4 separate regions of the Homo sapiens genome follow, and regions 1, 3 and 4 are each reported to be linked to region 2. Evidence: microRNA targets listed by miRTarBase, many of them from high-throughput screens and not tested one by one. Region 2 holds a microRNA gene; each other region holds the end of a gene's coding sequence.

Evidence for each region. The annotated mature microRNA hsa-miR-6513-3p reads UCAAGUGUCAUCUGUCCCUAG and lies in region 2 at 2,223-2,243, opposite strand. An mRNA with a match to its seed (bases 2 to 7 or 8) in the 3' UTR can be bound and repressed. Matches are read on the target gene's strand: a 7mer-m8 pairs with bases 2 to 8, a 7mer-A1 pairs with bases 2 to 7 and ends in A, and an 8mer does both.
Region 1: miRTarBase lists OTUD4 as a target of hsa-miR-6513-3p. Seed matches in the 3' UTR shown: 7mer-m8 at 2,269-2,275 and 7mer-A1 at 1,782-1,788.
Region 3: miRTarBase lists SLC35E4 as a target of hsa-miR-6513-3p. Seed matches in the 3' UTR shown: 7mer-A1 at 3,451-3,457.
Region 4: miRTarBase lists MINDY1 as a target of hsa-miR-6513-3p. The part of its 3' UTR that is shown has no 7-base or 8-base seed match.

The regions. Positions count from the first base shown.
Region 1 is chr4:145,134,159-145,138,158 of GRCh38, forward strand. OTUD4 (OTU deubiquitinase 4) reads right to left here. Exons shown (of 21, transcript NM_001366057.1): 21 at 1-4,000. The coding sequence ends at 3,272. Among named protein-coding and RNA genes, the nearest start is that of ABCE1, 38 kb to the left of the region's middle.
Region 2 is chr2:218,277,905-218,282,516 of GRCh38, forward strand. It overlaps MIR6513 (microRNA 6513), which reads right to left and starts at 2,284; the gene lies at 2,221-2,284. All of the region lies in intron 2 of PNKD (PNKD metallo-beta-lactamase domain containing), which reads left to right. TMBIM1 (transmembrane BAX inhibitor motif containing 1) reads right to left here. Exons shown (of 12, transcript NM_022152.6): 2 at 4,036-4,277; 3 at 2,122-2,222; 4 at 1,385-1,449; 5 at 1,134-1,187; 6 at 611-661; 7 at 31-70. The coding sequence starts at 4,237.
Region 3 is chr22:30,646,769-30,650,768 of GRCh38, reverse strand. SLC35E4 (solute carrier family 35 member E4) reads right to left here. Exons shown (of 2, transcript NM_001001479.4): 2 at 2,876-4,000. The coding sequence ends at 3,738. Among named protein-coding and RNA genes, the nearest start is that of SLC35E4, 13 kb to the right of the region's middle. RefSeq lists an enhancer at 3,997-4,000.
Region 4 is chr1:150,993,706-150,997,705 of GRCh38, forward strand. MINDY1 (MINDY lysine 48 deubiquitinase 1) reads right to left here. Exons shown (of 10, transcript NM_001376665.1): 9 at 3,919-4,000; 10 at 3,130-3,662. The coding sequence ends at 3,582. It overlaps ANXA9 (annexin A9), which reads left to right. Exons shown (of 14, transcript NM_003568.3): 13 at 872-994; 14 at 1,555-1,929. The coding sequence ends at 1,617. Among named protein-coding and RNA genes, the nearest start is that of MINDY1, 11 kb to the right of the region's middle. RefSeq lists enhancers at 2,271-2,490, 3,840-4,000.

The DNA.
Region 1 (4,000 bases), not on the chromosome of region 2:
ATGGCTGACATTAGTAGCAAAACCTTAGTTATCTGAAAATAACATATTGGAAATGAGACATTATTAGGATTTTAAACAAACAATAGCATTTAGACATAAAGTAGGAAGCAAAATACAGTAAACAGAAATAGTGTAGCCAAATATGCATTCTCTTCAGCTACACTAGAGTGGACCTTGCTTAGTACCCTTAAGTAAAAGACAAAACATTTACCTCATCTAAAAATGAAGGTAAAACGAAAGAGGCAAAAATAAATATTGCTAGTTTCTAGGATGGCTGAATGTTTTCTAAACCAGAAATGGTTAGAAAGGAACTTTATTGCACCAAGTCAATCATAAGCAAGTTTGCAGTTCACAGGCATTTTAATTCAACCTTGAGTCACAAAGGAAACAACACGCTGCAAGAATACAGTCTGCATTAAATAAGATATATCAGCATTGTGGTCTGGGAAAACCTATGCTTGCCAGGACAAGGCAGGGTCTGAGCTTAGGTCTGCCATGAAAATGAATTTGTGGGTTATCAGTAAACAGTATGAGGACTACACAGATGCCAGCATCCTGCTGCCAAGGAGACATGGGGCAAGAGTTGAAGATTTGAGAGGAAATGAAGAGACATACACAACACCAAAGGGAAAAGGGGGCTGGAATCAAGTTCAGCCAAAGCACCTAACACAAAAAACAGGTGAGCTTTGGTCAGTCTGTTCTTCAAAATATGTATGATCATAATATGGTGAAGTTTCATAATTTCCAACTCAAAAATACAAATGATCCTCAGTTCTATACTTTTGCCTCTATTCTCTTATAAAGAAATATGTCAACATAACAGTATGACATAACAGTTAAAATGAAGGACAAAAGCTTGCTTATCCTTAGTTTGACCTCAGCATAAGGCAAAATCCCCTGGACTAATACATTTAAAAACAAACTTAAAGGAAAAAAAGCGAAACCAACCTTCATGCAAAGATTAATTTTAAAACTATCAAAAGTCAGTTCTTTTATTCCAGAGGTCACTGAGAAAAGTACCATCTGCTAAAATTCTCTTTCAAGCACTTCTTCCATCATATCCTAGAGGTGAGATATGGGAAACAGAAAGCAAATCAGTGTTTCCTTCAGGAGCTATATTCTGTTACTCAATTGAGGTAAGACAAAGTGACAATGAAGATATGAGTAGTATTTCCTTCCAATTTTTAAACATTTTCAGAAGCTGAGATCAAACCCCAGTCAATAAAATGCAGGACACTAGAAGCAACAACTTATTTTGGACTCCTGAGATCAAACACATTGAACTTTCAAATCTGGTGTTTGTATCAAAATGTGATTTTCATTAAAATCAGGTAAGCTAGTCCTACATAAAAAAGCATGAGCTGAAAGTGGAGGACCCTCTATCTTCTCATTCCTTAACTGAGCCACCGATGTTAAGAAAAAAATGGCTTAAGCGGTACCTTCAACAACTATTCTAGTTAAGAAGGTGACAACAAATTCCTTTCAATAGGTTCTCTCAAGAAAAGTTTTCCACACAACCATCCCAGTCTTTACAATTTTTTACCTAGCACCATCATAATAAAATGTTATCTTTCAAAGTGCTCTCTAAAATCCTGTTACATTATCTAAATGCTAATCACTACTCAAATCAGCAGTTACACAGACGTTAGGTAATTAAAACAGCACAGAGGTAAATAACCATTATTACAGTACAGTGGCGATTCACTAGCCCAACTGGCATCCAAACATTCCCATAGGTTATCAGAGAACCCAGAAAACCCATCTGTTTCAGTTTGTCAAATTCAAGTGAATTGTATTTTCTTAAGTAATTTGCTTTACAAAAAAAGAAAGTCACCGCATCTGGTTTTGGCTAGGTATATTACACATGGCATGCAAAGAGAAATTACTACTATGTTATTTGCATAGCACTCAAACTTCCTGATCAGAAGATAATCTCAACATAATAAAAGAGTGGATTTTCACATTGGTATGCACAAATAAAGAATATAAGCTACAGTTATTTTTACAAAATAACACAGATGAATGAATACTGTGTTAATTCAGAGTTCAATCTCCAAATGAGAACAGAGTGCAACATGCAAAGGGAACCTCTAGTGAATACTGCAAAGACTGGAAGAAAACAGAATGTAAGATGTTACCTACCTAAGGGTAACAAGCTATAAAATACAAAGCAAAACCATTTTCTAGCAGCATCCTCTAGAAAAGAACTAGAAGTCACAATCATATTATCTTCTATACAATAGTTCCAGCCCTGACAAGTAGAACATGCAAGTGTAAAGTGAAAGTGATACACAACCAATGGTGCGGGGGGGGGGGGGAGGAAGAAAACAACTCTAGAAACCTGTCAAGCTAAAAATTTTTAACATTTCTTCTCACAAAATATTTAGAATCTGTCAGTGCATTAGTGTTAAAGTGGCATTAAAAAAACTTCTGCAGTTCTAACTGATGCAGATTATTTTCAAAATGCATAGCATCTACATTTCTTTCGAGTAGGCACCATGATATTTACACCAGTGCTAAGAATTCTTGGTGGAAACAGCCATTTCATTGGATTTCCTACTATTCTTCTATGCAATCTCAACAAATACCAAAATTCAAAAATATACCTTATGAATATTAAAAGAACTATATACAACATTGCTAAGACACAGTTAATAGGCTGCCTTATGTGAATATTAAAGAGAAGACATTATTCAAGTTTGACAGATATTGAGATGAAAGGCCTTTGGGTTGGAAGCATTTTAAAAGACAACAGTGTTTTAGGCTGAGAATTGTTTGAGCCCAGTTTATGACTAAGGCATTGCATAATAAAATATACATTTCTATTTGGTGCAACGTTATGTTTGGAATCTATAGTGTGTCAAATGGTATATTTTCTTGTCACTTTAGTAAACACTATAAAGCACACATTTCCAACATCTGAAATCAAACTTATAAACTTATAAGGAAAAAAGCCAAACACTAAATCTATAATGTTTTATATTAAGCTGTTTATAAAAAATACTTTAACAAACTTATCTTCTACTTTTTACGGGGACAGTCACTTGATCAACAAACAGATTCTGAATGAAGAAAACTGGCAATGCCAGGAATTAACCTGCCCCCTTGAACTCATGTCCAAAATGTCTTGTCCAGTATGGGAGTGAAGGTAAGGGGGGCTGGGGAGAGGAAAGAGTTCCAACTGCGGTTTTTACTTTATTGTATTTTTTTTAAAGCCTTCAGAAACATTCCACCTAAGAGTTTCTGTTAGAAAATACTTCGGCAACAACCATCAAGTGTGCTGTCCCCTATGGCCATCTCCCATCCCTGATCTCCTCCTATCTCCCCTAAATGGTCGCCCTCTGACATTTCGATGGTACTGATAACCTTCATCCCGACTTCTGCTTGGCTGTCCTTTCCAGGACTCCTCACTTCTCACATGTTGATATCCACCCCTACCAGAATAGCCCCAATCACTTTTGTACTTCCTGCTTCCATAAGTTTGATTATAGAACTGCTTGGATCTACCACTTCTCAAAATATTAGACACTTCATTTTCATCTTCTGAACTCTCTTCTTTTGGTCTTTGCACTCTGCTATCAACAGAGTTGGCCCCAGGGCTGACCACATCAGCAGCAGTCTTAGGATCTTTTACTTTTTCTGTTTTTTCTTTCAGGCTTTGAATGGTCCTTTTAGGTTCAAGTTCAACAGGCACAGTTTCTCTCTCTCTGTTTAGAATCTGAGTGGGAGGATGAGCCTTTCCCTCTGCTACAGGAGGGATGGAAGCCAATGCCGTATCTGCCTTTCGTGTCTGGGAAGATTGCTCTGTCCGGCCTTCGTCCGGCTTACTGCTCACACTTGCTTCAGGGAGAGAATGTACATGTTCACCCCTGGCTTCTGGAAACTCATCTACTGTTGAAACTGAACCACAATCTTTAGACAGATCCAGATTTTCCAGAGACAGATCCAATTCTCCTTTTTCATCAGAGGGCAGGACAATATTCTGCCTCATTACTGGATT
Region 2 (4,612 bases):
CACACCCTCCTGCCACCCTTCTAGACTTACAAAAAGGGTCAGCAGAATGATGTTCCATGGGAAACGGCGTCTGAAGGGAAAGAGAAGCCTTGATTAAATGACTTGGGGCCCCTCAGGCGTCAGAGGCTCCTACAGCAGAAGGAAGCGCTTGGCTCCTGTGCCTGGAGGATTAAGCCTTGACTCCAAGGAGGGAGGTTGGCATGGCCTTTGGCACCTGTTCAGGTGTGGTACGCAGGGACAACATGGGCCAATGAGACAGACCTGTGTTGTGGCGCCAGAAACACCTGGATTGGTTTGCAACTCTTAAACTGACTGCCTGTGTGATGGGGAGAAAGTTACTCAGCCTCTTTGAGCCTCGGGTTCTTCCTATTTGTTAACTGGCTAAAATGCTACCTGTCTTGCAGGGTTACTATAAGAGTGACAGCTAGTTAGCTCCTAAACACACATGGTCCTTTGTATACACCTGAACAGTAGCTGTCATCGTCATCCTCCTCCTCATTTCTTGTAAGTTTCCATTCAGCTGCTATAAAGGAATCCTTCTTTCCAAAATACTCGGCCCCCATCCCAATCCCTGTCACCCCTCTCACTGTGTTAAGTCTCTGGGACTCACCTGGGTCCCTGGCAGCAGGCAAGGATCAGGTAGGTGACAACGAAGACAGCACTAGGGACAAAGAGATGGGGAAGCAGTTCAGGCCCAAATCTGCCCCGCTTGGCAGCACACACCAGGCCAGTGATTTGGGGCCCAAATAGCCGTTTGGAAGTCTGAGGGGAAGCAACTCAACAGGAAGCAAGAACGAGATTACCCCCAGCCAGGGTCACTGAGATGCTCTGAAGCACCAGGCTCCGGCCAGGAAGGAGGTCTGGGGAGGCTGCAGCTGACGGGCTGAGAGGACATGGGGGCTGCAGCGCAGCGTGCACGCCACCACCAGCAGGTCCCACTCTTGCTCTCGAGTTCTAGGGGTCTGCTACTCATCTGGGCACGCACACCCACACCCTCTGGCACGGGAAACTGGCACCAACTTGGGGGCCCTCTCAAAAAGCATTTTGATCCTGCCCTGAGCAAAGCTGGTCACCTAGAAACAGAAGCTGCCACCCCTGCCTCCCTGCCCAACCACAGAGGAGCACACACTCACTAGGACACGTAGTAGACAGCCACATTTCTCCTCACAAAGGCGCTGACAGGTTCCCTGTGGGGCACAGGAGGACAGGAGTAGTCACCCTGAGGCTTGTCTGCCCCACCCAGGCCAGCCAGGCAGCCCTGGCTTCACCTTCTCTAATTGCCCATGGTCACCCTGAGAGCAGGGCCCACCGCCACCCACACCCCCAGCAGGTGACCCTGAACCCCCAGGGCAGTAGGAGTGGGTGGCAAAGCCTAGAGACTTACACAAAGGTGAAGATAGCAATGATGGCCACAGTGATGAGCAGCTGCACGGAGATGATGGAGTAAACCTGGACACAGACGGCCGGGCATGGGTCACCATCCGGCACCCCTGGCCTGCCCCAGGAAGCTGCCAGCCCCCAGTACTTTCCTCCCACTCAAGAACCCTCCCTAGCTGCAGCCTGGCCCAGAGGCGACCCCAGTGAGATGCCTGGCTCAGAGGCAATGTGCACTTCTTCCTCAGCCCCGCTCCCATGCTCCCTGCCATCTCCCCTCCTGTCCAACACCAGCCTCGGTGACTACTGACTTGCCCTGCCTGGCCACCATACTCTACCAGTATGGCCTCTGCACTCCCAGCAGCTCAGTCTGCACGCTCTATGCAGCTGTGAGATGGAGAGGGTGGGTTACAAGCGAGTAGGATCATTTCTGGCTCCAAGCTGCCTATAGTCTAAAGGGAGAAAGATGTCTGGGGAAGGCGGGCGCTGTGGCAGAACCCACCTAGGAGATTCTCCCAGACTGAATGTGTCCTCCCAAAACATGGTCAAGAAGAGAGGTGCAAAAAGAGAGGGAACCCTGGGGTTAGAGAAGCCAGGTGCCCCTCTGAGAAGCAGACAAGGCTAGAGAAGACAGGCAGCCAGTGTATTTCATGGAATTGATGCCCTGGGGCTACTGTGGCCTACCCACTTCCCATTCCCACAGCCTGAGGGGCCCCAGGTACACCCACCTCCCAGCGCGTATCTTACCTTTCGGATAAAAGTGTGTCGCACTTTCCGGTCATCCCACTCTCCAGGCCCGAAGCTATCACTCACTGCTCTCTCCTCCCCATCATAGCCATGGCCTGGGCCTAGGGACAGATGACACTTGACTCAGCTGGGGACCTGAGACATGTGGCGTCAATCCCAAAGCCTCCCTGACAATCTCAAAGTCTCAGGGATCTCCAGCCAAAAGACAAGTGTTATAACAGGAACTCTTCTCCCAAGCTGGGGTCTTCTAGACACCCTCAGAGTGACCCAGAGCCGGCCTGTCACGAGGGGGCTTAGGTGGGAAACGTTCCTCACGTGCATCTGTGGAGGGCTCCTGTGTGCCCAGCCCACGCCACTGGGGGTTCACTGGGGGGTCACGATGTAGTGGGGAAGCCAGGCAGGAGCAGGTATGGGCATCCACTGGGGCAGCCAGCCAGGGCAGAACAGGGGATGGGGACAGAGGGTAGGAGAAAAGGAGGGCGGCAGAGCGCAGTTTGTGCAGCAGCAGGGATAGAGGTGAAGACAGGGATCTGCATCAGCCTCACAGAGGCAGGTGTGCAAAGGGTGTGCGTGACTGTGCAGGACCCATGCGCAGATCCGCACCAGCGCACATGTCCAGGTGAGAGCTGGCTGACACCCCTCTGGGGTTCAGAGATGCTGCAGGGCTGCAAACATTCCCTGAATGCCTGAATGCCTGAATGCCTCTTTGGGAACTACTTTTAAAATCCACGCTTGAGCCACCCAGGAAGACTCACTGCACTCTAACTTCACCTCATTTCCTTTTTTTTTTTTTTTTTTTTTTTGAGATGGAGTTTCGGTCTTGTTGCCCAAGCTGGAGTGCAAAGGCGTGATCTCGGCTCACCGCAACCTCCACCTCCCGGGTTCAAGCAATTCTCCTGCCTTAGCCTCCTGAGTAGCTGGGATTACAGACGCATGCCACCACGCCCGGCTCATTTTTTGTATTTTTGGTAGAGACAGGGTTTCACCATGTTGGCCAGGCTGGTCTCAAACTCGTGATCCGCCCATCTCAGCCTCCCAAAGTGTTGAGATTACAGGCATGAGCCACCGTACCCGGCCTCTTTTTTTGTTTTGTTTTGTTTTTTGTTTTTTTTTTGGTTTTTTTTTTGAGACAGAGTCTTGCTCTGTTGCTCAGGCTGAAGTGCAGTAGTGCGATCCTGGCTCACTGCAACCTCCACCTCCTGGGATTGCAAGCGATTCTCCTGCCTCAGCCTCCTGAGTAGCTGGGATTACAGGTGCACGCCACCACACCCGGCTAAGTTTTTGTATTTTTAGTGGAGATGGGGTTTTGCCATGTTGGCCAGGCTGGTCTCGAATTCCTGACCTCAGGTGATCTGCTCGCCTCAGCCTCCCAGAGTGCTGGGATTACAGGCGTGAGCCACCGCGGCCGGCCTCACCTCATTTCTGACCAAACACAAGCATGTCCCTGCCATGATGTTTACCAAACTTGGCTCCAAATGTCTTTTGCAAAAGTCAGATTTCACTTTAAAGGATGAGGAAAGTGGTTCAGGTTCCCAAAGGAGTTCCTAAGGAAGTCGACAGGTCTGGGAGGTGGCAGCAGCTTGTTGGCCGCTTGTTGGGAAACAGAGCTGGTGCCCTGAGGTAACCCCTCAGGAGTCATTACTTGGCCCAGCCCCATTCTCCTGTGGTGTGTACGTTCTGGGACATGCCTCATGGATCTCCTTGAACAAAGGGGGCAGCAAGTGGCTGGGGGCCAGTTGCTGAGGCAAAAAGTGGAGGGTAACAAAGACAGAAACAGAGGGAGAGATCTCAACAGAGAAGATGAGAAAGGGATTTAAGGGAAACTAGAAGAGAAAAGGGGCAGGAGGCGGTGGCCTCATCTGCTCCAAGTGCTGTCCCTCCCACCCACCTTCCATCTGCCCTTCCAGGACTCACCGTAGTTCATGGGCATCGGGTGGGTGGGGGGCATGGGCTGTGGGTAGCCAGCAGGGTGACCGTAGCCAGGCTGCGGGTAGCCAGGGTAGGCAGGATACCCTCCTGGCAGGACAGATGGCTGCCCATAGCCCCCAGGGGGCGGAGGGCCTGGGTACAGGGGGTTGCGGTCTTCATATGGTGGTGGGGCGCTGGGGTTGGACATGGCTGCTCACGGGCTGAGGGGGAACCCCAGCTGCTGGGACCTGAAATGGGAGAGGAGAAAAGCAATCGTGAATGCCCAGGCCCAGCTCACTCAGCCTCATGGGCCCACTTCCAGCCTTGTCCAGGCTGCCTCCGTGGAGAGGAACACCACCTATTTTCTCCTTAGAGGGCAGCGTGTGATTTGCTGTCCACAGGCCACCTCCCCACCAACTGGGCTCCTGTCCCTCCTGCCTTTGCGCCTGCTTCTTGTCCACAGGCCTCTCACTGTGCAGCTCCCCAGCCATAGGAAAGCAGGAGGAAGGATTCGCTGAGGAGAGAGGGAACCAGGGAGCCTGGGAACTCCCTGTTGTGGTTTAAGAAAACCTTCCAGTTTTGG
Region 3 (4,000 bases), not on the chromosome of region 2:
CAGGCTGAGGAGGGGTGGGGCAGATAACACGAGAAGCCTTGAGGAGGAAGTGGAAGCATCTGTGATAAGACTGAGGCCTTCCTAGGCCTTTGTCCATTACAGCTCCAGAAGCTGGTGGGGGATTAGGTTCCACTGCTGCCCCCACTCAATGCACAGAGGCACAGGTGGAGAGGACCTTGTGCAAGGTCACAGAGCTCAGATGTACCAAAGCCAGGATTCGAGCACAAGTCAAACTCCAGAGCCCCTGTTCTTTTTTATTTTTGTTTATTTTTTGAGATGGAGTCTCATTCTGTCACACAAGCTGGAGTGCAGTGGCGTAATCTTGGCTCACAGCAATCTCTGCCTCCTAGGCTCAAGCGATTCTCCTGCCTCAGCCTTCCGAGTAGCTGGGATTACAGGTCCCCACCACCATGTCCGTCTAATTTTTTTTTTTTTTGAGACGAAGTCTTGCTCTTGTCCCCCAGGCTACAGTGCAATGGCATGATCTCGGCTCACTGCAACCTCCGCCTCCCAGGTTCAAGCGATTCTCCTGCCTCAGCCTCCCAAGTAGCTGGGATTACAGGCGGCTGCCACCATGCCCAGCTAATTTTTGTATTTTTAGTAGAGACGGGGTTTCACCATGTTGGCCAGGCTGGTCTTGAACTCCTGACTTCAGGTGATCCGCCCCCCTCGGACTCCCAAAGTACTGGGATTACAGGCGTGAGCCACCACATCCCACCAAACCCAAGCTTTTTGACTCCCAATCCAGCGCTCTCTGTGCCCACTGCTGGGAGGGGTGATAGGCATGGCTTTGGCTGTGGCCTTGGGGGAATCACCTCAATGTCTAATGGTCCTGAATCTGGTGACAAACCAGCTCCCAGGTCACACACAACCCCAATTACCTGTCCCCACAACCACCAGGGGCAGGCTTTAATCTGATGTGAGGCTCACTCATTAGCCAAGCATCCCACAAGGCCTAGAAATGAGGGTGGTACAGGGAGGTCCCTGCTATGGCAGTGGGGGCCAGTTGGATGGGAAAGGGTCCTGAGTCACCGAGGAGGATTTGACCACAGCCATCCATCCCTCCATCCTGCCTGGCAAAGCCTGAGAGTGGAGGCCAGAGGTACCCAAGCTGCTCAGGGACTGGGCTGGGCCAGCGGCATCTCTGAGTCATAGAGAGGGTGGGTGACAGGTGACTCAGCCCAGGCCGACTTCCCCTTCTGTAAGGCAGCCTGGGCGGAGGCTGGAACCAGGAAACCCCATACCGGTCCTCCTAGGCCTTCCCTACCCACTCCCACCCCGCCGTGGGCTGGCCCTTTACTCAGCCCTGTCTAGCACTTGCTGGCACTGTGGTCCCTTACGAATTCTGGTTACTGAATCTGAATGATTCCTCCCTGAATCTCAGTCTCCATAGACCACAGCCCCAGCCTGGTCTAGCTCCTAGTCCTCACACAAATGGGAGACATTTTGCAGATGGTTTCCAGAAAGGTTGGGTGAATACCCCAAGATAAAAGCAGAGCCAGTTGGTGCCATTACCTCCTTCCTCACTCCTGGCCCTGCCCAGCGCTCCTCATTCGAACCCTCTCCATAGGGATCATCAGTTCCATTTTGCAGATCTGGAAGCTGAGGCCTAGGGAAGGGAGGCTCCCAGTCAGGTGGGCAGAGCAGGATTAGGTTCCAGGTGTTCTCACTCCAACTGGGTCCTTATCATCTTTAACAGGTGATCTCCAGGAGAGGTAGCTGGCTGGGGAGAGTTAGGTGTTACAAGAGCCAAGGAAAGGCTCAGAGGTAAATAACAAAGCTGACGCCAGCTGGCGAGTCAGGGAGCTCTGGGGGTTGGGACTCCTGTCTTAGGTTCCCTACATGGGAGCCCTGCTCCCCTATACCCCTGCAAGCCTCCTGAGCACAGTCCCTTGTCAAGACCCTCATCAGCCCTTTTTTTTTTTGAAAGAGATAGGGTCTTGCTCTGTCACCCAGGCTGGAGTGCAGTGGCATGATCATAGTGCACTGCAGCCTCCAACTCCTGGCCTCAAGCGATTGGATTTTTCTTTTCTTTTTTGAGATGGAGTTTCGGTCTTGTTGGCCAAGCTGGAGTGCAGTGGCACAATCTCGGCTCACTGCAACCTCTGCCTCCTGGGTTCCAGCGATTCTCCTGCCTCAGGTGCACGCCAGCAGGCCTGGCTAATTTTTTTGTATTTTTAATAGAGACGGTGTTTCAGCATGTTGGCCAGGCTGGTCTCGAACCCCTGACATCAGGTGATCCGCCCGCCTTGGCCTCCCAAAGTACTGGGATTACAGGTGTGAGCCACCGCGCCCGGCCTGGATTTCTCTTTTTAAAAAGAGTTGCATGTTTGGGTTTTCTCCTCCAGGCAGGGGTTTAAGCTGTGGGAAGGGAGGAGGTTGTTGTAGGAAGCGGGGACTGGACGGAGGGAACAGCATGTACAAAGGTTTCAGTGAGCAGGCCTGGTATCACGGGGAACTGAAAGAAGTCGGTGAGGCTGGAAGGCAGAGCCCAGGGGAAGGGAGACAAGCTGGGTGAGGCTGCAGGTGCCACGTCCTGAGTGAGTTGGGGTCTGGGGTAGGAAATTCTGACTTTGTCCCAAGAGCAGTGAGGAACATCAGAATGTGCACGTTTTAGTGAGATCCCTCTGGGTGAAGGGGTCTGTGTGTAAGATGGAGTAGAGGGGCCAGGCAGAGCAAGGGGGAGGCCACTGCCACTGTCCAGAAGATGGGCAATGGTAGCCCAGCCAGTGGAGGGATTTGAGGGAATGGCACTGGGCTCGGGGTGGGGGGCCAGACAGACTGCGATGGGTAAGGGAGGATGTCCTAGTTTCTGTGTGGGAAGCCTACCACTCTCCCTATATCCCCTCTGTACAACCAACAAATGACACAGGCATACAAGCAAAAATAGTGTATTTGAGGATGGATGACCCAAAATTGGGGGGCCCAGGGGTGAGGCCACAGCAGCTGCCTGGAGTTGGCACAGACTACCCCAACTCCCTAGGGGAGCCCAGCAGCATAGAAGCCCCCCTGCTGGGCCTCCTAGCTGCCTCCCCCCCAGGAGGAAGGATTGTGTAACCGCCAAGAATCATCATCATCGTCATTGTAACAAGTTGAGGTCTTCAAAGTTTGCCCAGCAATTTTTGGCATCGTAATTGATATTAATCATAATAATGACTCTGACAAGCACAGGGACTGTGCCAGGCTTGGACCCACCATCCAGTGGTGTGCAGAGTCTGTGGCAGGGGTGAGGCAGGCAGGGATGGAACGCAGGTCTCCCTGGGAGTCCCCATTCCAATCTCCAAGGCAGCCCTTCCAGAAGGCTCCCCTCCCTGCCATGGCCCCCAGTAGAGGTCACTGCCAGTTCTCCACTTTTTTTTTTTTTTAATTGAGACAGCGTCTCGCTCTGTCTCCCAGGCTGGAGTGCAGTAGCATGCGATCTTGGCTTACTGCAGCCTCGATCTCCAGGGCTCAAGTGATCCTCCCACCTTAGCCTCCCATGTAGCTGGGACTATAGGCACGCGCCACCATGCCCAGCTAATTTTTCTATTTTTAGTAGAGATGAGGTTTTGCCATGTTAGCCAGGCTGGTCTCGAACTCCTGGCCTCAGGTGATCCACCCACCTCGGACTCTGGAAGTGCTGGGATTATAGGCGTGAGCCACCATGCCCAGCCCTGTTCTCCATTCCTTCTATGGCCACAGCGGAGGCTGGATTCAGGCCAGGGCCATCCCAGGTGGCTCCTGAGATCCCCCAGGTCTCAAAGACCCTTGCTGGGCTGGTCCCTCCGCCACAGCCCCCGACGGGCAGCCCAGGAGGCCACGAACTCGCAGTTGTGGTAAAGGAACATTCCTGAAAGAGTGAGTGCGATGCCCACGTAGCTGAGGGCACTGAGGCGGCTGCCAAACAACAGCCGGGACAGGATGAGGTTGCCCACCACGGTGAGGTTGCCCAGGACGTGGACGGTGAGGGCAGAGGTGAGGGCCAGCAGGGAGAAGCTGGCCAGGTTATAGAGAACAGACA
Region 4 (4,000 bases), not on the chromosome of region 2:
CTCACTGCAACCTCCGCCTCCTGGGTTCAAGCAATTCTCCTGCCTCAGCCTTCCAAGTAGCTGGGATTGCAGGCACCCACCACCATGCCTGGCTTATTTTTGTATTTTTAGTAGAGACGGGGTTTCACCATTTTGGTCAGGCTGGTCTCGAACTCCTACCTCAGATGATCCACGCGCCTCATCCTCCCAAAGTGCTGGGATTACAGGCATGAGCCACTGTGCCTGGCCTGTTATTTCTAAACTGAACCTTTCATTACTTTCTTTAGCCAAAAAACAGGCCTGCTGCATGTACAGGAGGAAGATAGCAATGTTTCAGCCTAAGGGTCCAACCGGAGAAACTAATATGCAGAGATGGGGCTGTGAGATGGCCCTATTGGGTTGGAATCAGAACTAGAAGTCACACAACCTTGAACCCTATCAGAGCCTCATCAGCTCAGTTTAGGGATAGGGCAGGTATATCCTCCTTGGATATTCACTAACTTGAAAGTTAAAAGCAGTTTTCCTGGTTTTCATGCTGGCAGTCTTTATATGCACCAAATCTTTTCTAGCCTTCCTGGTGTACCTATCTTTGGAGCTGCTCACCACCAAATTCTGGAGGTACACAGCTCTAAGCTAATGGTAGGGGCAGGAAAGACATGTGGAAAGAAATAAATACTCAAGCTGCCCCCACAGAGACTGATCTTTCCTGCTGTGTCATCTTCCTTGAGGATGGACAAACATAACTTTTGTCCCGAGATAATGTATAATGTACACTCTTATCCCTTGACTCCCACCTTGCCTCCCCTTCCTACAATAACCCTCCAAGCCATTCAACCCCTACTCTCAGTGAGACTCTCACTAACTACCCCCCATCTCTTTCTTCCCCTACTAGGAAACTGAGCCCAATTACCAAGTCCTGATTCGCATCCTTATCTCTCGATGTGAGACTGACCTTCTGAGTATCAGAGCTGAGTTCAGGAAGAAATTTGGGAAGTCCCTCTACTCTTCTCTCCAGGTGAAACTTGGCTACTTCTTAGCCTGGAGCCTCAGGCCTTCACTCCTCACCTCCACCCTCACTCCCTGCACACAGCTGAGCATATTCTTGCCCCATAGAAAACCCAGTAGTTAGCCAGGCACAGTGGCTCACGCCTGTAATCCCAGCACTTTGAGAGGCTGAGGTGGGCGGATCACGAGGTCAGGAGTTCAAGACCACCCTGACCAACATGGTGAAACCCCGTCTCTACTAAAAATACAAAAATTAGCCAGGCATGGTGGCGTGCACCTGTAATCCCAGCTACTCAGGAGGCTGAGGCAGGAGAGTCGCTTGAACCCAGAAGGCAGAGGTTGCAGTGAGCCAAGATCGTGCCACTGCACTCCCACCTGGGTGACAGGGCAAGACTCCATCTTAAAAAAGAAAACCCAGGAGTCTTTGGTTAATGTAGTGCAGGACTCTGAGCTCCCGGGAGGACCCTTCCCTCCCAGATGAACTGTGATGGACCAGCCCAAAGGAGGGGAGAGAGCACTTGGGCCATAGTGGTGGTGGATCTTTCTAACACTGAATTCCCTTGTCTGCAGGATGCAGTGAAAGGGGATTGCCAGTCAGCCCTCCTGGCCTTGTGCAGGGCTGAAGACATGTGAGACTTCCCTGCCCCACCCCACATGACATCCGAGGATCTGAGATTTCCGTGTTTGGCTGAACCTGGGAGACCAGCTGGGCCTCCAAGTAGGATAACCCCTCACTGAGCACCACATTCTCTAGCTTCTTGTTGAGGCTGGAACTGTTTCTTTAAAATCCCTTAATTTTCCCATCTCAAAATTATATCTGTACCTGGGTCATCCAGCTCCTTCTTGGGTGTGGGGAAATGAGTTTTCTTTGATAGTTTCTGCCTCACTCATCCCTCCTGTACCCTGGCCAGAACATCTCACTGATACTCGAATTCTTTTGGCAAACTTCGCTGTTGTTTGTGTTCCCTGATTGAAGGTTGGGTGGAGCAGGACATGGACCGGGAAGAGGCACTGGAGTTGGAAGTGCCTTTGATGTGCACTTGGCTATTCCGCAGGAATCCTGTTTTGCCTTAGTGCTACAGTAATCCACACCCAGGTCTCCCACTCCAGGTCTCCCCTCACCCTCATTCTCCAGGAAACTTCAGGCAAAATAATTGAGAAACAGGCATTAGAACAAGGTGAGAAATAGAGGGAGCAAAGGACCATCTGTATGAACTGGGAAGCAAGCGGAGGGCCAAGCTACCCTCCCCAGCATGGGAATTCTTGGGTTAGTGGAGAGCACAACCCTCAAATTCATGTGTCCAAGCAGAGATTTGGAAACCCACCTCCCAGGAGAGCACTATTTCCCATAGAAAACAAAAACAAAAACAGAAACAAAAACAAAAAGTCAGGCTTTGGTTCCCCCTGCAGGCTATATTAGAAATGACAGGTAGCTGGGCGCAGTGGCTCACGCCTGTAATTCCAGCACTTCGGGAGGCCAAGGCAGGCGGATTACTTGAGGTCAGGAATTCAAGACTAGCCTGACCAAAGTGGCGAAACCGTCTCTACTAAAAATACAAAAATTAGCTGGGCGCAGTGGCGCATGCCTGTAGTCCCAGCTACTCAGGAGGCTGAGGTAGGAGAATCGCTTGAATCCGGGAGGCGGAGGTTGCAGTGAGCTCAGATTGCACCACTGCACTCCAGCCTGGGCAATACAGCGAGGCTCCATCTCAAAAAAAAAAAAAAAAGAAAAAAAGAAATGACAGGTAACCACCTTCCTGCCTCTGACCCACCTCCCGCTTTTTGCATTCTTCAATTGGGTCAAATACTTAACCCTATTGCTTCAGGGTAAGGCAAACAACAGATCTCAGGAAAGAAGGTTTTTTTTTTTTTTAGACAGTTTTGCTCTTGTCGCCCAGGCTGGAGTGCAATGGTGCGATCTCGGCTCACTGCAACTTTCACCTCCCAGGTTCAAGTGATTCTCCTGCCTCAGCCTCCCGAGTAGCTGGGATTACAGGCGCCCACCATGACGCCCAGCTAATTTCTTGTATTTTTAGTAGAGACGGGGTTTCACCTTTTTGGGCAGGCTGGTCTCGAACTCCTAACCTCAGGTGATCCGCCCACCTTGGCCTCTCAAATTGTTGAGATTACAGGAGTGAGCCACCGTGCCCGGCCAGAAGTTTTATTTCCAAACCCCAGGAAGGCATTACAAATAAGAGATAGAAACCCAAATTAAGCTCTGAAACAACTGGAGACAGGCCTGCCTAGGTGATCAGGAGCATCCAGGCAGCAGGGATGGGAAGCAGAAGAGATGCATTCTGGATAGGGACCTCACCCCAGAGCCTCAGTCTGTACATACGTGTGACTATTCAGGGACCGGGAGTTGAGAACCAGAAACCCACCAATCCTAGTGTTGCCCTGGATGGGAGGCAGAGAAGGCAGCAGCACGTGAGGTCAAGGACATTACCAAGTCTGACCTTGGCATTTGTTGCCTGCTCTCATCCCCAACAGTCCATAAATAAGTTATCCAGCACATCTCAGGGGTGGAGGCGGGGGAGCAAGCCAACTAGCCATAGCCTCTGGAAGAAGGGGCAGGCCAGCCTGGCACTGGGGCAGAGCTACAGCAGAATGCAGTCTGACTCGTGCTTCGGCCTCTGCCGACGCTCCCCGGCTGGGCGTCCAGATGTGGCTCCTCTCCCCTGTATCGGATTTAACAATTGGTCACTGAACTTCCTTGGAAGAGCACAAGAAGAGATTCTAGAAGAAGGGGTGTCAGGATTGGGACAGAGAGTAGGGAGAGGAAGACAGGAAGGGGCTCCAGGGGAGAGGGACAGGCAGGGGAAGGACTCTGAGAGAAGAAACCTTGAAGAGACCAGTGCAGGAATAACAGGTGTTCTGGACCCGGCAAAGCATGAGGTGGAAACCGGGAGTGTGGGCGCCCAGGCAGCAGCCCACCTGCAGTGACAGGACCCGCGTCCGCATCCGCACTGGCTGCGCTGCCTGCTGCTGTTGATACTCCTCTTGCTGAAGCTGCTGG